2 linked regions of the Homo sapiens genome follow. The main gene of each other region encodes a partner of the protein of the gene in region 2 in a complex. Each region holds a gene or a part of one and is shown on either strand. Other genes may lie near its edges. The genes, in order: BCL10 and MALT1. A codon is read from its position in the direction of its gene.

Region 1 (11,477 bases), on a different chromosome or scaffold from region 2:
TACTTTAAAAAAATTTTATTGTTGATAGCAAAATTTCCATTTCTATGTTTTTGCAATTAATAATAGAAATATATAGGAGACAATGTCAGGAAACAGATAAAATTGTAATTTAAATAAAAACAAACAGTGAGAGCATAAGATTTATAAACATGTAAAATTAGTCAAATTTTGTTTTACAACAAAAAGACAAATCTGGCTAATGGCCCACTTGTTCAAATAGCATTAAAAACAGAATTGTCACACACACCAAAAATAATTTGTTCCAGTTATTTCAACTGTACATTGGTCCTCATTAAAAGAGAATGAAAAGTACAGAGAAAATATTTTTTAAAAATCTCATCAGGCTAGGTGAGGTGGCTCGTGTCTGTAATCCCAGCACTTTGGGAGGCCACGCTGGGTAGGTTGCTTGAGTCCAGGAGTTCAAGACCAGCCTGGCCAACATGGCAAAACACCGTCTCTACAAAAATAATACAAAAATTAGTGAGGCATGGTGGCACACACTTGTAGTCTCAGCTATATTACTTGAGAGGCTGAGGTGAGAGGATCACGTAAGCATGGGAGGCAGAAGTTGCAGTGAGCCTAGAATGCGCCACTGCACTCCAGCCTGGGCGATAGAGCAAGACTGTCTCAAAAAAAAAAAAAAAAAAAAAAGAAAAAAGGAAAAAATACCTCATCAAATTACATGTAATAACTGAGGTTTAGGCCAAGATATTTTTCTTTAGGAATGAAAATGATTAAGCCAAGAATGTGAAAATCCTAACAAAGTAGTATAATTAGTAAGGTTAATTAGAAATGAATTTTGGCAAACCGAGATCTTAGGTGGCTCACACTCCATCAAGTGTTCCTCCAGTATCAAAAAGAGGCTGTTTACATGCCTATACGACAATGGAGTGGAAAAGAGATTTTTATTTTTCTATATTGGCAGTTTTCCCATCAGTGACCGGTTTTATTACTGAACAGGAACAGCTTAATGCTGAAAATTTGCTGCTGAATGACTGGCAAAGACTATTAGACTCTTGAAAATTTCTAGCACAAATGCACTGAGGAAAAAACGTTCTTCCTAGTAAGGGTCTATTCTCAAATAGAGATATATTCCCTATTAAAATCAGTCTTAAAATAGAAAATATTTAAAAAAGTACTGAAAGACCTTAAAAAGGAAAAAAAGAAATTACTAAAAAGTACATGATCAACATGATTTACAGTTAGCTATCCTAGAAGTATGCTTTTTTAATTCTAAAAATCCTATTTACAAAGTATGCTTACATTGCATTTTAAAAGACATGCATCAAATGTAAACAAATGATTACAGCCATTTTATAAAAAGTCATATTCTTTAAAACATTTTTTGTCATCATTAAAAATTAAAAGGCAATAAAGTGTCATTGTCGTGAAACAGTACGTGATCTTAAGGGAAGAAACATCTCACTAGAGTTTGCACAAGTTCCTTCTTCTTCTAACTGTAGATCTGGTGGCAAAGGAGGAGCCCCTGGGTCCCCAGGTCTGGGAAGTGTAGTTGAAGAGAAGATGGTATTTTCAGTTCTGCCTACTTCTAGAACAGGCAAATTCAGAGAAGAATTAGTAGAAAAAAAGGGCGTCGTGCTGGATTCTCCTTCTGGATGGTACATGACAGTGGATGCCCTCAGTTTTTCAGAGAAATTACTCTCATCTGAATTTGATCTGGAGAGGTTGTTCGTGGCTCCATCTGGAAAAGGTTCACAACTGCTACATTTTAGTCCTACAATAAAATTATTCAGATGTAAATGAAAAAGTAACTAAAAAAATGGAGTCACTGTCCATCTTGTGACTTGTTAAAGATTACAAGCTAGTTACCCCACAATCAAAATTTAAATAGCAACTTGTAATTTCCGTCATAATCTATTTCAAATCTAATTTGCTTTTCTCAACAACCATGAAGTATACTATTATTTGCATTTTCTATATAACAAAATAGTCTCGTGGAAGTTAAACGACATGCTGTAATTCTCATTTAAGGTACAGCGTACATATAAACTTAACCACCTAAAATTTTTTATAAAATAAGAAATAGCTTTCACAATAAATATTCTTTAGTATTCTGGTACAAAAAATATTAGCTAATAAAAAAATGTAAACGGCAGATGCTAAAATTCTATCTGTTGATCAATGACAATGGCTAATTCTTGAATAATAGGATATTAGAACTAAAAGGAATTTTAGAGGTCACCTAGGATAGTCTCTTATTATTAAAGACGAGAAAAAAGGGCGGGGCATGGTGGCTCACGCCTGTAATCCCAGCACTTTGGGAGGCCGAAGTGGGCAGATCATGAGGTCAGGAGTTTGAGATCAGCCTGGCCAACATGGCGAAACCCCATCTCTACTAAAAATACAGAAATTAGCCAGGCGTGGTGGCAGGTGCCTGCAATCGCAGCTACTCAGGAGGCTGAAGTAGGAGAATCGCTTGAACCTGGGAGGCAGAGGTTGCAGTGAGCTGAGATCATGCCATTGCACTCCAGCCTGGGTGACAAGAGCAAGACTCCGTCTCAAAAAAAAAAAAAAAAAAAGAGAAAAAAAAGGCACAGGACAGTTAAGTCATGTCCAACATTCCAGGACTACTTTGTGGGAAAGTGAGAACTACAATTCAATAGATAATGTCCTGTTTCTCAACCTCACAGTTTACTCAAATGACAGTGGTTGTTCCCATTAGCTGTGGTACGAATGTATCCGCCAAAAGTTCACATGTTGGAAACTTGGTTGCCACTGCAGCAGTGTTAGGAGCTGAGGCCTTTGGGAGGCAACAGGGTCATGAGGGCTCTGCCCTGGACTAATGCCATTATCACGGGAATGGGTTAGTTATTTTGGGAGTTCGACTCCTTTTTCTTCTCTTTCACACTCTTGCCCTCCCTTGCTCTTCCATCTTCTGCCCTTCCACCATGCATGACCCTTGCCAGATGCTGGCGCCATGGTCTTGGACTTAACCAGCCTCCAGAACTGTAAGAAATGAATACATTTCTTTTCTTTAAAAGTTACCCAGTCTCAGGTATTGCTACAGCAGAAAACAACTTAGATACCATCAAAGAATTTTATGATATCCAAAGGGTATAGTTAACCATTATCCAGAGGATTGAAAGAATAAACACAAACACAATTTACCCTTCTGTTAGGCTTAGCAAATATTCAACCTACAGGCACAGAAACCCTGAGTTGACAATTTTTAGGCAAAACCTGCATAGTCTATAAAGGGCACTTACATGTCACTTCTTCCACTAGTTTTTCAACCTCACAGTACAGTCAGCATGTCTATTCCATGCTATACAAACTACTTTCTTAGATATGGCTCAAAAGGGAAAACTTGTAATGTGTCCCAGCAAGGGGACACTTATAGACTATGAGTTCCTTAAGGGCAGAGCCCTAAATTATTCTTTTCTGTATCCCTAATGCCTAGAAGAGCTGTAGAACATCACATGCACATTTATGTGCTCTGGAGAGAGACAGTGAGGAACAGAGGCAGGAGGGGGTTGGGGATTTAAATTGTGTAGGCAATTCCACACAATATTCCAATCAGTGAGTGTATATTCTGGAGTGAGAGTGAAATGGGACAGGTGAATCTGCTATTCTCTTAATCTGTTTCCATGCTTTCACATCTTGCCAGACTAGTTTAAAGTCATGAATATTTTATGCAACGTGATTCCTATAAACATATGCCAATTACTTCATCTTGTGATCAACTGGTGATCATAAGAAAAACTAGCAGAGTTGGACTTTTACAATACTTTGCCTAAATACTGTTCTTTATGTGTGATGTACAGTATTTTCAGAGCTTACTCTTGAATAGATTAACTTTACATTCTACTGACTTTAGAAACAAATCCTTATGTATGCAGGGATTTCATAATAGTTTTCTATAAATGGTATTAAATGAATACAAATACAGGATATTGAGAGATATTCCACTTTTTCAATGTAATAGTGTCAAATAAGGTAAAATAAGTGCAAATTGAATATAATTTTGAAGTTTAAACTTTTTGAAAGCAAAATGATCATTTCTGTTTTTGTTTTGCTTTTCTGAGACAGGGTCTTGCTCTGTTGCCCAGACTGGAGTGCAGTAGCACAATCATGGCTCACTATAGCCTCAATGTCCCAGGCTTAAGTGATCCTCCCACCTCAGCCTCCTGAGTAGCTGGAAACACAGGTATGCACCATCATGCCTGGCTAATTTTTTAATTTTTTGTAGAGACAAAGTCTCGCTATGTTGCCCAGGCTGGTCTCAAAACTCCTGACCTCAAGCAATCCTCCTGCCTTGGCCTCCTAAAGTGCAGGCACCTGGCCTGCTCTGCATTTTTTAAAAGCATTATTACATTTAAATTAGCTCTTAGATAATTAAGATATCTTACCTTTCAGATGTTCTAGTTTTATATTTCTAAGTTTCAGCACTTCATCTGTAATCTTCTGTATCAGGAAGTTCTGTGTTTTTTCTCGCCGAATAGATTCAACAAGGGTGTCCAGACCTTTTGGGTTTTCCTGTAAGTAGTCTAACAATTTTCCAGCCCTTTTTCTACTTGATGTTCGACAAGAAATTTCTTCAGTGTCTTCTCTACTGAGTATTTTTTTTGCACGTAGATGATCAAAATGTCTCTCAGCTATGATTTTCTCACACAGGTATACACGTAAATTTTCTAAGGCCTAAAAGACATAAAATATGGTTCAATGTTATTTTTAACATCTAAGAAAATCACATACGTGACTATTAGTTGGCAGTCTTAGCTGGTGTGAGACAATGTTCTAAAGTCAGGAGGCTCAGGCCTTCTAAAATGCATGCTAATTAAGATGAAAGTCCAAGTAGACACAAGTAGGTCCTAGACATTCCTCACTGCTTTGATCTCACCTTCAAACCTAAAAACCAAGACCAGGCTGTTGTGAAGAGGGACCAGCTGAATCTAGAGGGCCTGGGTCCTTGGAAACAGGGAGGTCTGTTGAGGGCCATCTTCGGGAGTAAAGATGAGGGCAAACACTACTGTACATTTTAGCTATCAGTTGGCAAGGAATGCAGAATTAGTCAGGACCAATAACTTAGTGAGAGGTCTCACAGTCTGTAACTTTCTCATGTTTGTTATTAATTACTCCATTTCCTTAAACTGTTAAAGACAAAAAACAAAACCCTAAACTGAAAGAGCCCATAATGTATCTGTCTTTGGGGTCAGCTGGAAAGACTACACTCTAACTCAGTGAATCAGTCTTGGTGGAAGGGAGATGGAAAGATGTGTGGGGAATAGGGAGTGTTCGAAAAATGAAAGAAATAAAGAAAAAGGACACCACAAAAAAGCAAACCTAGATTTGAGAAGTGCCTAAGAGCTTAATTAGTAGAAAATCCATGTTGATCTCAATAAATGGCATTAATAATTTGGTACCGGTGACTGTATTTTAGCTCCTCTATTTACTAGATATATGATCTTGGGCAAGTAATTAACTCCTCTGTGCTTGTTTCCTCAGCTGACTGTTATATGAGGAATAAAGATATGCAAAGTGCTTAGAAAAGCGCTTGGTACATAGTAAGTGATCAATATATGTTAGTAATAATGACAAAGGTAATGGCAGGAAAGTAGGCTAGGTGAAGGGTTCCTGTGGTTCTTGGTCTACGAAGTTCCACATTTACTTGTTTATTCACATGACAAGTATTTTACAAATCTAAATTCCTAATATGCCGAGTGCTGAGCACTGAGTATACAAAGATGAACAAGATTTGAATCCTACATGCAAAGGGCTCATGGTCTAGCTGGGAATACATATCACAGGTAATAATTATAAAACAATGTGATCGGGCCCAGAAAAAAAAGATTATAGGTCAAATACAGGAAAAGCACAGAGTGAGCAAATAACTATGTCCAGGACCTGGTCCTTATCATATCTGGCATGGACTATTAACAATAGAAACCTAGCTGCACTTACTACTTCCTTCCCCCTCCTCAACATTTCTCCTTCAGGAGAAAATGGAAATCTGGAGTATTATATGAATTTTACTAAATTTTTTTTAAGGATCTCACTCTGTCACCTAGGCTGGAGTGCAGTGGCTTGATCATAGCTCACTGCAGCCTGGAATCCCTAGACTCAAGTGATCCCCATCTTAGCCTCTTGAGTAGCTAGGACTACAGGTGTGAGCCACCATGCCCGGCTAATTTTTAATTTTTTTTTTTTTTTTTTGTAGAGAAGGGATCTTTGCTACATTACCTAGGCTGGTCTTGAACTCCTGGCCTTAAGTGATCCTCCCACCTTATCCTCCTGAGTTGTTGGGATTATAGGTGTGGGCCACTGTGCCCAGCAAATTCTAATATTGAAATTTTGTTAATTTAGAAAAAAAATTAAAAACAATGTTCTGCCCTGTCTTAAAGGATAAAGTTCCTTTACGTGGCAGAAGAGTAGAAAAGTTAAGGGCATGGCTCTAAAGTTGGATCAACCTCAGTGCAAATCTTGAATCTAGTACTCACCCTTGTGAGAGCTGGGCCAAGTTACTTCACCACTCCAAGCTCCAGGTATGTTATTGATAAAATAAGGATTAAAAACTTAACTCACAGGACATCAAGGAGGACTAAATGGGAATACTATATATGAAGGCCACGCATAGTCTCTGTACACAGTAAGTACTCAATAATAACTAATTATGGAAGACAAGGTTCATTGATAATATGGCTCCTACCTACCTCTCCAGCTTAATCTATCACTACCTTTGTCCTGAAAATTTATGCTCTACCTAAAACTATCTGTCTCTCTACATTTCCTTACGTATTTTTTGTCTGCTTTTATCAGACCCTAAAGCCCCTATTCGTCCTTTAAGATTTAGGTCAGTGGTCATCTTCTTTGGAAAGGTTTACCTAACTCCCCAGAATGAGTTAGGCACCCCGTCCTCTGTCCTTGTAGCACCTTGTGTATACACTTCATCTTTCTATACACCAGGACTCCACTTCTTTCACCTCATTTCCCAATTCATTCCCAGACATTTCCATCCTGCCCCAGTATTCTTCTCGAAGTCACCAATGACCCCCTTATTGCCAAATATTTTCAGTCTTCATTTCATTTTTCAGCTGCATAAACACAGTTGACTACTCCCTCCCTGAAACAAGAAAATTGTTACATGAATACCACACTCTCCTGGTTTTCTTCCCATCCCTGTGGATACAACTTTTCAATCATTTTCTTGTTGTTGTTGTTACCCTACTTTCAAGCTAACAATTCACTTTTTAAAATTCTTCTCTTTAAAGGGTTTTACACCATTTTTCTCTTCTAGCTCACAGCTTTCTAGGTAAAATCATTCAATTCCACACTTACATTTCTAGCTCAGATCTCTCTTCTGATCTTTGACTTTGCAGATGTAATTGCTGATCTGACATTTCCATGTACTAATCTAATTACATCCTCTTCCTCAACTCCCATGTTCAATCCATCACCAGGTCATATCATTTCTATTTCAAAAACTGCATCTGGAATTCTGCTCCATTCATCTCCACTGCCTTCACCCTGATCCAAATCACCATCCTCATTCATCTCTATAGATTCCAAGAGCCTGCTCACTGGCTTCCCTGTTCTTATTCTTGTTCTCCTCAGTCCATGAAACAGGCAGAGGGATCTTTAAACTATACAATTCTTCAACAAGTCCCTACTATACTTGGGGGGAAAAAAACCCCAGATACTTTACTAAAAGGCTCTTCATGAAAATGGCTCTAGCCCACCTTCCTAACTTCACTTCAGATTACCCTCTGCCTTCCTCCGATTTCCCCAAGTCACCAGGGTCTTGCCTATTTTAGGTCCTTGACAAATTCTATTCTGCCCAGAATGCTCTTCCCTCAGTTCTGTCAAATCTTTCAGGAATCAGTTTAAATATAACCTCTCCTGACCATCCTATCTCAAGTCGATTTCCCCTATTATTGTCTTGGCACTGTTTGATTCCTTCATAGTAATTGCAATAATGAAAACAAAATTTATTTATTTGTTTTAAACTAACGTCTCTGTTTGAAGCAGGCAGCTACGAGGTATGTTTTAGCCAACACTGTATATCCTGCACTTACTAGGGCACCAAGTAGTTAATGTTTCAGTTGAATGCAAAACTCACTGCACTTATTTTGTGATTTAAAACAATCCCCCTCAAGAAATTGAGCTCTTTTCAAGTTAGGATTGTGTTTTCATTTTTAATTTTTGAACTGTTAGAACCAACCACAGTATCAGCCTCACAGTAGCATGTAATCCATATTTATTAAACTGTACTAAATCCAACTAACACAATGAGGCAAATAACTAGATAGGAGGAGGGGGAGACACTAAAGAAGTGGGAGGTCCCAAGACAAAGGGTGGTAGCACACCATTCATCAAGAAAGGCAATACAGCAGCAACAGTAAGCAACTTTGGGAAAAGGATAGTAAAAGTTCAATATTTGACAAGGTGAGCAATCTGTAGGATATAAAAGTAGATTTCCAGTAGACATTTGGAAATAAGGACCTAGAGTGGAGAGAAAAGTCCAAATATGTGGATAATTTTAAAACTCTCTAAGATCAGAAGACATTTTGAAAATATCATGAAAAAAACCTCTAAGAAAAAAGCATGCACATAGTTTCTTTCATAGACCTTTTGAAACCCATCCATGGTTTCCTCAAGGTTATTTATTTCTGATATAGGCGTAAAATGAAATCCTGAAGACAGATAACATCAATGAATTGACAGAGAAGAACAAAGACCTGGAAGCCACTCTTCACATCTGTACTTGTATACAGATCTTATTTCCTTCCACTTGTAATTTCTCAGTTCCTGTTTTATTAGCTGTAAAATGGGAATGGCAATTATCTTCTTTAGAGGTTGTTGCGAAGGTTAAGTGGGAACATTGTAAACTGTGTGACACAGCATCTGGAACATAGGAGGCCTAGCTCTTGGAAGTTCAAGGTTTTACTGGCACTCACCATGAATAAGACAACATTTATTCTACAGTAGTTATTTATGTTCCATTCTTATCTCAACTAGAATGTAAAGCAGGAAACTGATCTTCATTTTTTTGTATCCTTCCAGACCCAAGGCCAGTGCTTTCCATATAGCAAGTGCTCCATAAATCTCTGTTGAATGAGGAAACTAAGCACAACTCCCAGTCATATCCAGTTTCCTTCTGCTGGTGAGTCACACCAATTGTGAGTACAGTGTAATAAACCTTACAGGGAAGAGGAAGGGATTTGAAGTGGATGAACATTTAAAAAGTTGCCATCCTGTCCAGTTCATCAAAATGACTTTGTAAAAGTACTGCAGTGTTCAATAAGAACACGTTTCATGTTGAGTTTCTGTTTTTCATTTGACTTCAGATAAAGTATTTTAGTGATACTCATATAGGTCTCATCTGACAAAACAAGTAAACGCAAAGGAAAAAGAATGTCATATCTCAACAAAGCCATTCGTTACGAATAAATATGAAGGTTTATGTGGTTCTGCACCATCCGAGAAGAGCATAATTTAGCTACTGAATATTTTCGACGTTTACCTGTACATTAATTCTCAGCTACGTGTATTCACTCCCCCAACCCCAATTTAAATATGTGGGCGTCTGCTTACTAGGGGAATTCCAGGTTGTGCTTTCAGCTGTTGAGCTTCCTCAAGCCCCCTTATGCAAAAGAGCTTCACATTTTTGGTCCACTGCTTGGGATCCTTCACCTGGTACAGCCTTCGCTCTAGGCTGAGTGAGCAGCCTAGGCAGCCTGACTTAAGGATGAATCTGAGCCGCCAGTCCCTAACGAAGCATCTCCAAGAACCCAGTTGGGGGGAAAGCATGAGGAGATGGGTGAGGAGTGGGCAAGAATCAAAACACCACTTGGCAACAAAGCCCAAGCTCTGCGTTTAGCGATGTAAAACCTGGATTGACAGATCACTGGAGGATCACTGCCACCAAGGTCCCTCGGATGCAGGGCTCGCCACAGTCCTCCTGTGCTAGGACTTTCCGCTCCTCCGACCTGGAGGATCCTCCTTGTCCTCGGACTCCAGGCTTCCGCTTTCGTCTCCCGCTGGGCTGCAGCCCGCCCCCGCCCGCCCTGGGCACAGCTGCGTTACTCACGTCCTTCTTCACTTCAGTGAGGTCCTCCTCGGTGAGGGACGGTGCGGTGGGCTCCATGGTGGAGGCGGGAGATGGCGCTTCTTCCGGGTCCGGGAGCTCGGGCTGCGCCGCCCCGCCCTGGCTGGGGGCTTCGGCCTCCGGGTAATGGGGAAGAAGGAGAGGAGGCGGAGCGGGTCGGGAGAAAGACGGCCGCCCCTTCGGGAACAGAGGGACTCGGGGGTCAAACCGTAGCGCTTCCGGCCCCGCCTCTGAGGTCGACGGCGACGCGAATCTACGCGACGCGACGCGGAGCTCGGAGCAGCGTTCCTTCCCTCTCGTAGAGGCTCAGGCGCAGGCACCGCCCCACGGCGAGGCGCGTCGCTTAGCAGAGCCCGCCCTGTCTCTGCGGCAGCCTATCGACGCCAGCCCGCGGGCCGATCCTGTTCCCGCCCCCGACCGGAGCCTTTCGGGTGGCTCCGCCCACAGCGGGCGTTTCCTCAAGCCACGCCTGCGCAGGTCGTCGGTAAGTGGCCCGGGTTAGCTTCCTCATAAGGCATCGTTTCCGTGGGTGGGGTCCGTCAGTGCCCAGGCAGCTGGCACTCTCAGCCTTTGCTGCCTGCTCACTTCGGGGGAGTCCGGTCTGGGCTTGTCAGTACCTTGGGTTCCTCCCCTTTTCCCAGACCCTGCCCTACAATTTCCTGTTGTTACGTTTGCCAGTTACTGTTTTGGTCACACACAAACGCACTCATACACACATACACATGCATACACACAAACAGCCTAACTACAATACTAAACAAATTTTTGAAAGAAAAAAAGAAACCACCTACAATCCCACCACTTTAACACCTCATTTAACGTTTGCATACTTTTTGGTCACTGTTCATTATAAACATAGCTTTTCCTCATTAGTTAATCTGTGTAATGGAGATAGATATGCTTACCTTTTAGGGCTGCCGGGATCATATGTAAAGTTCTTAAAGGTAGTTGGGCACACAGTATGCACTCAACTGATTATTTATTTATTTATTGAGACAGGATCTCACTCTGTCGCCCAGGCTGGAGTGCAGTGGTGCGATTCTCGGCTCACTGCAGCTTCCACCTCCAGGGCTCAGGCGATCCTTCCACCTCAGCCACCAAGCAGCTGGGAGTCCAGCTAGTTTTTTTGTATTTTTTATAGAGATGGAGTTTCGCCATGTTGCCCAGGCTGGTCTCAAACTCCTGGGCTCAAGCCATCCACCCGCCTCGGCTTCCCAAAGTGCAGGGACTACAGGCATGAGCCACCCAGCTCATCCTACTCAAACATTTATTGAGTCCTTACTAATATGTTCTAGGCAACTTATACTATGAGTCCTCCATTTTATAGGGGGAGACTGATGAAGAGACGACTATCCCCAGACCGTATTTTAACTACTATGGCGCTGTGTAAGAAGCAACCTGAGAAGTGTGG
Region 2 (12,444 bases):
GAAGTCCTAGGCATAAGTAATCCTCCCACCCTGGCCTCCCAAAGTGCTGGGATTACAGGTGTGAGGCTACCACGCCTGGCCACAATAGGAGAGTTTTGAGCAGAGGAGGAATAAGACCTGATGTGATGTTTTAAAAGAATAATTCTTACTGCTATATTGGTAACAGACTGGGGTGGGAGCAAAGCAAAACAGGGAGAAGTTAAGTGGCTACTGGAATAATCTAGTTGAGAGACAACGTGGCTTGGCCCAGCGTGCCAGCAGTGGACATTGGATTCTACATATATATAGTGAAGGTACAGCAGGAAGGATGGGCTGACAAAAACGATTTGTGTGTAAAAGTGGAGTCAGGAATGAATTCGAAGTTTTTGGACTGAACAACCAGAGGGTGCAGAAACTGAAAGAAAGAGGTTTATAAGGGAAGACGTGTTAAATTTTGGACATGTTATATTTAAGACGTGTCTTAGTCATTCAAGAGAAGATGGCAAACAAGTGTTTACATACGTGAATCTAGGAGTTCAAAGCAGAGAAATGGGCTGGAAATAGAAATTAGGAGTAATCAACCCAAATAAATGTAAAGTCATGGGACTGAAGGATAAGACCAAGAGGGCGAGAAGGAAACCTTTTTTAGTTTATTTGTTTTAGAGACAAGGTCTTCTCTGTCGACCATGCTGGAGGTTGACAATACCTAAATCAATAAAATTCTGTCTTGTCCATATTAATTATTCATAAATGAATGATTACTGAATGAATTTCAATAATAATTGTTGAGGCTCACTGCAGCCTCGAACTCCTGGGCTCAAGCAATCCCACCTCAGCCTGCAGAGTAGCTGGGACTACAGGCCTGTGCCACTATGCCTGGCTAATTTTTTGTTTTTTTGTAGAAACAGGGTCTCAGTATGTTTCCCAGGCTGGGAGGAAACCTTCTGTTAGAGCCTTTTACACGTTCTCATTCCTATAATAAACTGCATGAAAGCAGGATTTCTGCAGCTAAAAGTGCACCTTCTACTCAGCAGGTATGCAATGACTGTTTTTCCATGGTCCAGGTTCCACAGCCCCATTTCTAAGCTCCCTACTTAACAGAATTTTAGGCAGCATTTAGAACCTCCTGGAAGGTCTGCCATCCTTAGGGCTCAGATGTTCCATGCCACCAAAGAATTTACATAGCTTGGGCAAGACCCTCAGAGTCTGTGTCTATCTACACTAACAGCAAAGGGTGTCCAGGTCAGTCTTGAATGGAATCAGGGCCGGGTCTGACTATAGCACATTCCCAAATGTACATGGTTGTGGGGAACTAAGCTATCAACAAGGATTTACTCTGAGTCATCAGCAATGAAAACATTTACAATTATTTCTAATCTCTTGTAGACAGTTTGAACGGGCTCTTTTCTTGTGGTTTACTTATTTGTATTATTAAATTTTCACCCAGTTTGAGGAAAGATGTAAAGTGTCAGAAAAAAAAGTGAAGAGAAGAAAAAGAAACAGAATGGGCAACATTTCGAGATTCTAGGGCTGCAGATCCAGTGACTGAAGAAAGCACTTCACAGCCTCGTGGGACTTGTCACCCACACGGACTAGACACTCACACTATAATTCCTGTCTTTGGCACCAGAGAAAAAATACCTTTAGGACCTTCTAGTATCACAGATCTTCTCCCAACAGCATGAAATCACTTTACAATAACTTTTTTGTCTTAAATAGAGTAAGCATCCCCAGCTGACCTTGCTTCACTGTCCAGCCCCCAAGCTCCCAGTGCTGTTTTTTGAAAAAAAGTCCGTTTAATTCTTCTGATCTCCATAGGGATGAGCTTAACGTTCCCAAATTCTCCAACCCTTCTCACCCCAGCCAACCTCCTCAAAACTAATCTTTACCATCTTGAAAGACAGGTGAAACTCATCTGCCTCTCATCAGACTTCCCACCCCAAATTCTCAGATTCCACAACTGCATGCCCTTTGTGCTTGCCACCTCTTGTTAGGCAACTGTCCCCTTCTCTCTGTGTGACTCCACAGAAAAGTGGCCTCAAATATTTCCTTTAGTTCCCCCAAACAAAGCTAAGACCATTTTGTAGCCTTTAACAAAAACTGACTGAAGGCAGGCGAGGAAAACACAACACCCAACATCAAGTATCCGCTGCTTTTGGATTCCAGCAGCCACGCTTCTTCCCTGGCAGGGCCTTGCTGACTTTCTTCTCTCTCCTTCATGGCCATGTAGGAGTCCTCCATACCTGGCTTTCTTCAGGAAGCCCAGAACCTTCCCTAACCAGAGTACTCGTTAGCACCGTAATACTCTGGAGATCTGCCCCCAAAGACAATTTTTTACATTATGGTAAGTCCAGAAATTCAAAATTTTATGTACCTAGCATAACAATATTTTGTATTTGTTTTTTTTGCATATCCAAAAGCCCAACGTGTTTTTCCTAGAACAGAAAAAAATTATGCCACTTCTCTGCTAGGCCTTGCTAGTTATTCCCTCCTCACATCATTACTCCTTTGCACAAGCAATAATCCCAAGTCACTATTATCCTTTGCCTCAATCCCAAACTCTGAAACAAGAGTTGTCAGGAGGGTTTAAGAAAATAATGTGGCCAGGCAGGGTAGCTCATGCCTGTAATCCCAGTACTTTGGAAGACTGAGGCGGCTGGATCACCTTAGGTCAAGACCAGCCTGGCTAACACAGCAAAACCCCGTCTTTACTAAAAATACAAAAAAATTAGCGGGCTGTAGTGGCGCACGCCTGTAATCCCAGCTACTCAGGAGGCTGAGGCAGGAGAATTGCTTGAACCTGGGAGGCGGAGGTTGTAGTGAGCCACGATCACACCACTGCACTCCAGCCTGGGCGAAAGAGCAAGACTCCATCTCGGAAAAAAAAAAGATAATGCAAAAATAAGAAGAATAAAGAAGAATGAAGCAGCAGCAGCAGCATGTAAACATTTAGTATATTTTGTGGTACATACCATGTCCTCAATAAAAGATAAAAATCCATTATCATTCATACCCAACACAGCATTTAATATGTTATTGTAAAGGTCCCCAAATAATAGTCCATTCCTGGATAAACCCTTATGATTAGGAATTGAATATTTGTTAGTTTTTTATCTTCTAAAATTTCTAGCAAATAATAAGCACTTAATAAATACCATTTTGAATGAATGACTTTCCTCTCATCAAGTATTTACTAACCTCTATACATAACAGAATATTAAGAGACAGTTTTTGTTCTTAAGGCATTTATAAAGATGTGTACAAATAATTATACTGTAAGACAAATCTTTGTCATTTGAGAAGTTCAAAAAACTGCTAAGGGGTTCAAAGGCAGGCCAAAGTTACAACAATGGTATAAAGTAATGGTTCTAAGTGGGGTCTGGGAACCCCTAGTGCAGTTCCTGAGACCCTTTCGCGGGGTCCACAAGGTCATAAAGATTTTTCATAACAATATTAAGACTTTATTTAGCTTTTTCATTCATTCTTTCAGGAGTGGACACTGCAGTTTCCAGCGTTCTGTGACCTGTAATAGTGCGACAGACTGAATGCAGAAGCACATAAACGAATCCAGCTCTGTGATTAAGCCAAGACATTAAAGAGATCTTCAAAATGAAAACCAATGCCACTTCTCTAATAGACTTTTTTGTTTTGGAAAATTTGTTTTTCCACGAAAGTATTATTTCTGTTACCATATAATGGGTTATTCTTTTTAAATAAATTAATATTTTTTAAATGTCTTAGCTTTAATTTCAAAGGTGGTAAATATCAGTATGTATTACATGTATGTATTATCTCTAACCCACATAAGAGCTCTCTGGGGTCCTCAATAATTCTTAAGAGGGTAAAGGAGTCTCGAGACCAAAACTTCAGGAACCCTAATACAGCCATTCCAAACCTAACAAGGAAAATAGTTTTACTTCGAGTTTCATGTTCATGGTGAAGTCAAGAAGAGAACGTGGTAACCTGGTTTGATGGAGGGAGATGATGAGTTCGGCGTCAGTCTTTCCCAATACCTTGCAAAATGTTCATGAATTCCTGCACCCCACCCTCTGCATTCATCACCTCGCCTGCGCTTCTTCCCAGCCTTCCTTAGGTCTCCCAGAGCAGTGTCCACATCCCTTTCTTTTGCATTTTAAGTCCTCTGGATGACTGCCCCATCCTAGGGGTCCCCTGACAGCTTTCCTTCTCTCACTATCCTCCGGGGTCAACCTCGACTTCTCCCTTTCACCAGGGGCGGGGGTGGGAACAGGGAGCGAGGCAGCCGCTGGGCCACTTTTGCCTCCACCCTCCAGAGCCCTGGGCCCCGCTCTCAAACCCCAGGCGTTCCGGGGAGCTGCTGAGTTCCGCTCCGCCTCAATGACCGAAGTCCTCCCCACCTCCGCTCACTCACGCCGGCGGCCCCCGCCGCGCTCAGCCCCACCGACAGCGCCCCCACCTCCCCACCGCAGCCCACCCCGCTCGACCCGCGCGCCCGGCCTGCCGCGGCCCTGAGCTCACCTGAGGCGGAGGCGCCCGCGACTCCCCGCCAGCTCCGCCAGTCTCCTCCAGCCCCGGCCCTCGGGCGCCTGATCCAGGAGCTCGCTGAGCCTCCGCAGCAGCGGCTCCCGCAGGCGGTTGAGGGTCGCGCCGGCCGGAGGGGCGAGCAGCGGCCCCGTGGGGGCGGCCGAGGGCGGCAGGGCCTGTAGCGGGTCCCCCAACAGCGACATGGCCCTCGCCGGCGACCCCGGACTGCCGGGGCTCCCGCCCGCCCCGTCACGGGCCTCGGCCCCGGGGCACCTTCCGCTCGCCTCCGAGCCGCGGAGGCAGGGGCGGAAGAACAAATCTGGCAGCGCGGCACGGCCCTCAGAGGAGGAAGCTCCGCTCCCCGCCCCAATTAGACAGGTTTGCCGAGGGGAGCCTGGCCTGCTGGCCGCGCCAGCCGCGCAAAGGGGCGGGGCACCCGGGGGGCGGGGCACGGAGCCTCGAGGGGCGGGACCTTGGGCCTCGAGGGGCGGGGCGGGGCTGCCTACTGCGTGCGTGCGGCTGCGCGCCTCCCTCGCCCTCCCCCGCGGTCCCGGGCTGGCCGTGGCGCGCGCTTCAAACCCAGCCCTCCCGAGCAGGAAAGGACGGGTGGGTGCAGCTGGAGGAGGAAGCGGTGGAGGAATTACGCCCCGGCAGCTCCTCTACGGCGGGGAAGCCTGCGGCGTCTGGGCTTCCTGAGACCGTGGGAGGAGGCCTGCGTACTCACGCCAGAGAGCGGGGCAAGCGGTTCTCAGTCGCCGGCTCCCGCCCGCAGTCCCCGGCGAGCGCTCTCCCCTGACTCAGGGACTTTCATGTGCCCGGCGACACACCAGCATCCTGCAGTGGGCAACCTCAGCGGACGCTTCCTCGTTTTAGGGTTAGATGTGTATGGCATTGCTAGAGGGAAGTAGTGCTGGAGATCCGGATACTTGAGTTGGAATTGGCCAAAATCTTTGCCTAGACTTTTAAACAATTACTACTTTGCAAACTGAGCTGTGGCATATTTAGGGCTAATCAGATCTTGGAAATGATTGTTTTTAGCAGGAATCATCTGGTTTACACCGCGTCAGACTGCCGCCCGCAATCTCCGTCATCAAAGCAGGCAACCCTGTAGAGGATGCCTTTCCCTGGAATGATCCGGAATGGACGACACCTGAGCTCTCTCTGCCAATCTTAGCAACATCCAAGGCCATTATCCCTTTGAAAACTATGGCTTCGTTTGGGACAAAAAGGAAGTAACTTACGAAATGTGACCAGTCAGGTAGTTCCCTACACGAGGCTTCCTGGCCCAATTTCTGTTGCCATTAGCTTTTCATCACCCAAGGCCGCAGGATTTTCTGACCAGTAATTTGGATACCTATATTCTTATACATGTTGGCGAGGTAGGTGCGCCATACAGTCTCCACCACATTCTAGCACAAGCAGTCATTAAACTTCACTCTAGCATAAGTTAAGAATTCAGACTGCAGTGAGATGGCTAAGAGCATGAAAGATCTGCTCGATTCAAGTGTTAGGAGCTTGAATAAGTTTCTTAATTTCTCTGCCTCATCTATTAACACAGGACTGACAATACAGTTTATATAGAGTTGTTGCCAGAATTAAAGGAGTTGATGTATGTGAAGCACTTAACTCGGTAACTGGCACATCGTAGATGACTCAGTAAATGCTATTACCCTTACACATACAAGTGCCGTTTCATACTCAGTTTGACTTGGCAAGCCTTTCCCAACCGCTTCAGGTGCCTTCCTGTTTTGTCCTCAATTACTGTACAAATATTTTCTGAGGATCTGTTACCTGCATGTGCCAATTATGGAAATAAAATCTTCTAGTCTTTACTGGAATCCTGCCTTTTAATTTAAATTCAACAGAGGTCTTCTAAATTTAGACTTCTTAGAAAAGTCTGCCATGTACAAAGCGTTGCTTATGCAACCTCTCGTGTGCATACGAGTTAAATGGGTGCCAGTGTTATTTACTCTTAGCCAATATAGCTCAGCTGGGCACTGTTTTGACCTCGAGTTGTACGCCCCCACCCTGGCTTCCCAAGTGACTGCCTCCCTCGTTTTACCCTACTCCCAACCTTTTTTTCCACCTAGCAATTTTATACCCTATCCAGTCACTACCCGCCACCCTCCATCCTCTACCCAAACTGACATTACCTTTTTTGACTGGTCTTTTTCTCTCCTCAATCAAATGTTAATATTTCTATGACATAATTTCACTCCTGTGGTTCTCTTATGGGCATAATGGTATAGTAGAATGTGACCTTTAAAGTTAGTCCTGAATTGGAAACTTGATGTTGCTGCCACTTACTAGTCTAGTGGTGGAACTTAGGTGATCTACTTAACCTCTCTGAGCTTCAGTTTCCACACCTGTAAAAAGTGGAAAATAATAGTACCTAATAGTGTTATATAGCGTCAGGGAGAAGTATGTGCATTGTATATTAGTACTCTTAAAACTGCTACATCAATTTTGGGAACAATGTAAATAGTAATTCAGCTTTCTTTTCTATATTAACCGTTATGTTTATATAAAGATAGGAGAAAAATTGGGGGTAAAGATCTGGCTTTTAAATGTCCCTTAAAAGTTCATGCATGTCTATAGATAATAGCCTTGGGAGTTCTTCCTCATTAGTTCAAAGTGAAATAGATCTTTGTAAATCCAGACAATTGGCAGGAAGCTTGTGGTTTCAATATATGGAACTCCATTGATGTAATCTTCAAAGCACTCATAGGTCTGGAAACTGACTCATAGGATTTTTTTCCTTTATACAGTTTAACTATAGATGGTACTCCAACTAAAAAAAAAAAAAACGCCAGAATGATATATTATTTCACAGTTGGACAGGGTTTAAAAGACTCAGTGCAGGAGAAAACCTGCTGGTCCTTGGATCTGTATACAATGGAGGGAAAGGAAGCAGGAGTTATGTGGCTTAAATGGCATTCATGGCCGAGCGTGGTGGCTCACACCTGTAATCCCAACACTTTGGGAGGCTGAGGCGGGCAGATCACGAGGTCAGGAGTTCAAGACCAGCCTGGCCAACATGGTGAAACCCCATCTCTACTAAAGATACACCAAAAAAAATTAGCCAGGCGTGGTGGCACGCGCCTGTATTCCCAGCTACTTGGGAGGCTGAGGCAGGAGAATCACTTGAACCCAGGGGGCGGAGGTTGCAGTGAGCTGAGATTGTGCCACTGCAGTCCAGTGTGGGCAACAGGGCAAGACTCTGTCTAAAAAAAAAAAAAAGGCATTCATTGTCTGCCATCCCTTATTCCATGCTCAGCCCACTTTGTGACCTCTCTGACTCAGCCTCTGTAGGAGCCACTCAGGTGACCCACAGACACAGGCTCAGCACATCCCCTGCAGCCCATTCTTGCCACCATCTTCCAAAGGATTAGGGAAATTTTCTCATTTCGATTTCAACTTTGTAATAGTAGCTAGGCATCATGCTAGTATTCCACACTCTTCCTTCATGATGAATCATCCAGACCTAAATATTTGATCCTGACCATGGAAAGTCTACACCTACTTGTCTAAATTGATTCATTCACTCAATCATTCATTCCGTCATGAACACATATTCTTGGGGCACCAGGCTCTGTATCAAATACATACTGTTAAAGAATAGTTTTTATTTGATTAATTTATTTATTTTGAGACGGAGTTATGCTCTTGTTGCCCAGGCTGGAGTGCAATGGCACGATCTCGGCTCACGGCAACCTCCACCTCCCAGGTTCAAGTGATTCTCCTGTCTCAGCCTCCTGAGTAGCTGGGATTACAGGTGCACACCACCACGCCCAGCTAATATTTTGTATTTTTAGTAGAGACGGGTTTCACCATGTTGCCCAGGCTGCTCTTGAACTCCTGACCTCAGGTGATTCACCCATGTCGGCCCTCCCAAAGTGCTGGGATTACAGGCATGAGCCACCGCGTCCGGTCTTAAGAATAGTTTCTACAAGAAAGTTTAAATCATGATGCAACAAATATGCAATGAACACATATCAGAGATTTTAACTCATTAACTAACAAGGGAATCAGAAAGGTGTTACAATTACTTCAGAGGAGAACCCAAAGACCAGATAAATATGTCAGCCCACTGAAATGAAGTTGCTTCCTAGATGCAAAACTAGCTTCTTCCACAGTGGAGGAGGGAATGCAATTGAACCTCCACCTGACAATTTATTTAATTATAAACAAGATTCACTTGCATCACTATCAGTTTTCTGTAAGTTCACTGCGATCTCAGAGTTGTAAAGTAGCCTAGTCATGAGACAAAGATAAAGACAACCCAGGCAGATGAGCTAGGCGGGATTCCCACACCACAGTTCGGTCTTCACCAGTTTTCCCTTAGAGTTTGCAGAATACAATGTTGACCAAACCCGATGTCTGCTTAAGACAAGGAACAGGAGGAGTAAGTGCTCTGTTGATAGCAAGAAGTATACAAATCCAGGGGAGAGCCCTTCAGTCCATGTGGAAAGATGAGAGGAGATGGCTTGGGAAACAGGGTAGAAAGAATACCATACTGTAGGCTGGCCGCAGTGGCTCACACCTGTAATCTCAGCACTTTGGGAGGCCAAGGCGGGTGGATCACGAGGTCAGGAGTTCAAGACCAGCCTGACCAACATGGTGAAACCCTGTCTCTACTAAAAATACAAAAATTAGCCGGGCATGGTGGCAGGCAGCTGTAATCCCAGCTACTCGGGAGGCTGAGTAAGAATTGCTTGAACCCGGGAGGTGGAGGTTGCAGTGAGCCGAGGTCGTGCCACTGCACTCCAGCCTGGGTGAGAAAGCGAGACTCCGTCTCCAAAAAAAAAAAAAAAAAAAAAAGAATACCATACTATAAAAGCACAGAGCCAGAAAACATCACAGCAAGGTTGGAGAACTGCAGTTGCTCCAGGAGAGCTGGGGATACTGATGGGAAAGGGACAGAGACCACGATGTAAAAGGCAGTGAAGACCAGATTATGTCATGCCAAAAGCTGAGATTTTATTCTGTAGATACATACCTACCACAGAGCCATCTATGCCCCACTGGTGTTATACAAGATGCTTTTAAGTCATAACATGGATGAACATTTTTATCTTAATAGTTATACATTAATACAGAAAAGAAAAATAGCTGCCAATCAAAATTGCCATTTCAACTAATAGTATTGATTAGGACTATATCAAATTTACTTGTTAAAATTTGATTTTGTTTAAGGAAGTATATTAAATACCCAAGAGAACAGGTGGTATGTGGATATGTCAAAACCCCTAAAGCTAAATGTTTACAGTTTGAGAAACACTGCTTTAAGTGATGGAGAGTAATTGAAATATTTTAAGCAGGATAGTGATTTCACTTTTGGATTTTTGAAACATCTCTCGGGCAGCAATGTGGGGAGGGGAAAGAGTGGAAGTCCAAGAAGTATTCTGGTAATGTAGATGGGAAAAAAAGGCCTCCACCAAGAGCCACAACATTGGGCATGGAGAGGAGGGGCAAACTGAACAAATATTTGGGATTATTTTTTACTAGTCTGTGGCTGTGCCTGGTTGCATGAATCACTATACTTTAAAGAATGTTTAAACTTTTTTTTTTTTTTGAGACAGAGTTTTGCTCTTGTTGCCCAGGCTGGAGTGCAATGGCACGATCTCAGCTCACTGCAACCTCCGCCTCCTGGGTTCAAGCAATTCTCCTGCCTCAGCCTCCTGAGTAGCTGGGATTACAGGCATGCGCCACCACACCCGGCTAATTTTTGTATTTTTAGTAGAGACAGGGTTTCACCCTGTTGGTCAGGCTGGTCTCGAACTCCTGACCTCAGGTGATCCACCCGCCTCAGCCAACTTTCAAATGTGTTATTCTACATTCTACTTGGTTTAGTCAGAAGGAAATGAAACAAACATTTCTGGTGTATGGAATATAGTAAACGTGCAGTAGAGAGGGCAATGGTATTAGATTTAGCCTGGTTGTTAAATGAGTAAGTATGAAAGGTAGAGATGACAAATTATTCCCAAGAGAAGATTCATGTAACTGTATCACCAGCAGTTTCTCTGTGATACACTAGGATTAAATAAAGCAGAATTTAAATAACTGAACATTCCATGTAAGTGGACTTCTTCAGAAAAGGCTTCCTATAGTCAGAGTTTAGGGCTGGATCTTGAAGGAAGGGATGGATATGTTCCAAGTGGGGGAAATGAGAAGGGGCAAAGGTGCAGGAGGTGGATTTTAATATGTGGCATTCAAGGGATGGGATAGACATTGTCTTGGAAAGAAAAGTGGCTAATAAAAGGAAATGAGAGTTGTGAGAAGCTGTGGTTGAATGAGGGCTTGGAACACTAGGAGGAATGAATAAGGTTTGAAGGGCCGGGTGCGGTGGCTCATGCGTGTAATCCCAGCAATTTGGGAGGCCGAGGCGGGCGGATCACTTGAGGCCAGGAGTTTGAGACCAGCCTGGCCAACATTGTGAAACCCCATCTCTACTAAAAATACAAAAAATTAGCCAGGCCTGGTGATGCATGCTTGTAATCCCAGCTACTTGGGAGGTTGAGGCAGGAGAATCGCTTGAACCCGGGAGGCAGAGGTTGCAGCGACCCAAGATGAGATTGCGCCATCACACTCCAGCCTGGGTGACAAGAGCAAAACTCTGTCTCAAAATAATAATAATAGGGTTTGAAGGTCCAGGGATATAAGAACAATGGTTGCAAGAGTATCCAGTTGCTCTAGAGCAAAATTTCCCAAGTTATGTCCTGGGGAACACCAGTTCCTTGAAACACATTATTAGTGCATTACTTACAAAAAGAGCTCCATGGCAAAACTAATTTGGTAAACGCTGTGTTAAAGTTTTTCAGGTTTCTTTTCTGTGTGTCTCAGAGCCTTTAAGAAACTGCAATATGTTGTGGCTTCACCGGTATATAGAGTGTCTCCAAACTTCTTTACTTACTGGGCCTGTTTTTGCTAAGTGTGTCCCAGAACTAGTGTTCTATGGATTTTCCTTTAGAAAGTGCTATCTTAGAACATACCTAGTAGATCTCAAAACTCACAGGTGCTGCCACTTCTCCTCTCAGCTCAATCAACTCTCCAGGTGGCACTGACTCTCCTCTGCTTTTCCTATCCCCCTGACCTACCCCAGCTGATGCCCCAAACCACTATCGTTCCACTTCACATCCAGGAATGGTTGTAAAACTTCAGACACATTTTTTAAAAATGGTAAAGCAACAAGAAAAAGGTAAGAGATTCATCAATTATTTGAGACAACAGTGGTTTTCAGTATTGCTTAGACTGGTTGGCAACTTTTTCTTTTTTTTTTCCCCAAAGTGAACTTTGGGATTTCTCTATTTGATGTATGTTTATCCATGTATACATTTTTACAGATTTGTATACATTGAGGTATGGGATTGAAGAACCTTTATAGGGAGACTGCATGTATTTCTGTCTGTCTCCACCCATCCCTGTCTCTGCGTAAAGCATCCCACCTGGCTCCTACATTGAAACAGAAGTTGTAAATTCTGAAGAAACTGTCCAATTTGCAGAAAGGGCAATAGTGTATTGCAAAAGGTGGTTGACATCTTAGAGCAGACACCACTTGGGTAGGAAGGGTATATTATAATGTAGTAAAACATCCTTGCAGTTAATTTTCAGGTAGAAATGTTGAGGCCTGATAGAAAAGGATAGTTTGGCAATGCTTTATGAGATGGAAGACATTTATATGTACTTGTTCATATGGATATAGACAGCTTCTCCTTTCTATTCAAGAGAAGCTATCTGAGCATTAGTATTACAATAGGAATAACACCAGGCGTTATTACAAAAATGGCATTGTGATAGGAAAAGTCTTGAATCAGGCCTAATTTATTATCTACAAAGCAAATCATTAAGAAACTCTGAAACTTAAATTATCACAGGGGACACATTTCAACTGTGGGTGGAAACTTCAATTGGGATGTTATTTCGAATGGAAAATGGGATTTTCAACCGGGTAATAACTACATT

Evidence for each region.
Region 1: the proteins of MALT1 (region 2) and BCL10 are in contact, whole or in part, in a cryo-EM structure (PDB 6GK2), measured with the Homo sapiens proteins. Residues at the interface, in NP_006776.1 of Homo sapiens: Asp46 (codon at 4,550), Gln47 (codon at 4,547), Ala48 (codon at 4,544), Pro49 (codon at 4,541), Trp54 (codon at 4,526), Arg55 (codon at 4,523), Leu74, Glu75, Ser78, Leu79, Val81, Leu82, Glu83, Pro84, Glu85, Gly86, Pro88; in NP_003912.1 of Homo sapiens: Leu13, Lys17, Val83 (codon at 4,470), Arg87 (codon at 4,458), Asn93 (codon at 4,440), Gln97 (codon at 4,428), Thr100 (codon at 4,419), Leu104 (codon at 4,407), Arg107 (codon at 4,398), Asn108 (codon at 4,395), Leu111 (codon at 4,386).

Annotation. Positions count from the first base shown.
Region 1 is NC_000001.11:85,266,248-85,277,724, forward strand, and holds the start of BCL10 (B-cell lymphoma/leukemia 10), read right to left. Parts: upstream 10,386-11,477; 5' UTR 10,106-10,385; coding exon 10,049-10,105; exon of another isoform or gene 9,769-10,048; coding exon of another isoform or gene 9,553-9,768; exon of another isoform or gene 8,919-9,552; coding exon of another isoform or gene 8,916-8,918; intron 4,660-8,915; coding exon 4,371-4,659; intron 1,736-4,370; coding exon 1,380-1,735; 3' UTR 1-1,379. UniProt on the Homo sapiens protein: Plays a key role in both adaptive and innate immune signaling by bridging CARD domain-containing proteins to immune activation.
Region 2 is NC_000018.10:58,663,885-58,676,328, reverse strand, and holds the start of MALT1 (mucosa-associated lymphoid tissue lymphoma translocation protein 1), read right to left. Parts: upstream 4,865-12,444; 5' UTR 4,686-4,864; coding exon 4,477-4,685; exon of another isoform or gene 4,456-4,476; intron 3,717-4,455; exon of another isoform or gene 3,470-3,716; intron 1-3,469. UniProt on the Homo sapiens protein: Protease that enhances BCL10-induced activation: acts via formation of CBM complexes that channel adaptive and innate immune signaling downstream of CARD domain-containing proteins (CARD9, CARD11 and CARD14) to activate NF-kappa-B and MAP kinase p38 pathways which stimulate expression of genes encoding pro-inflammatory cytokines and chemokines.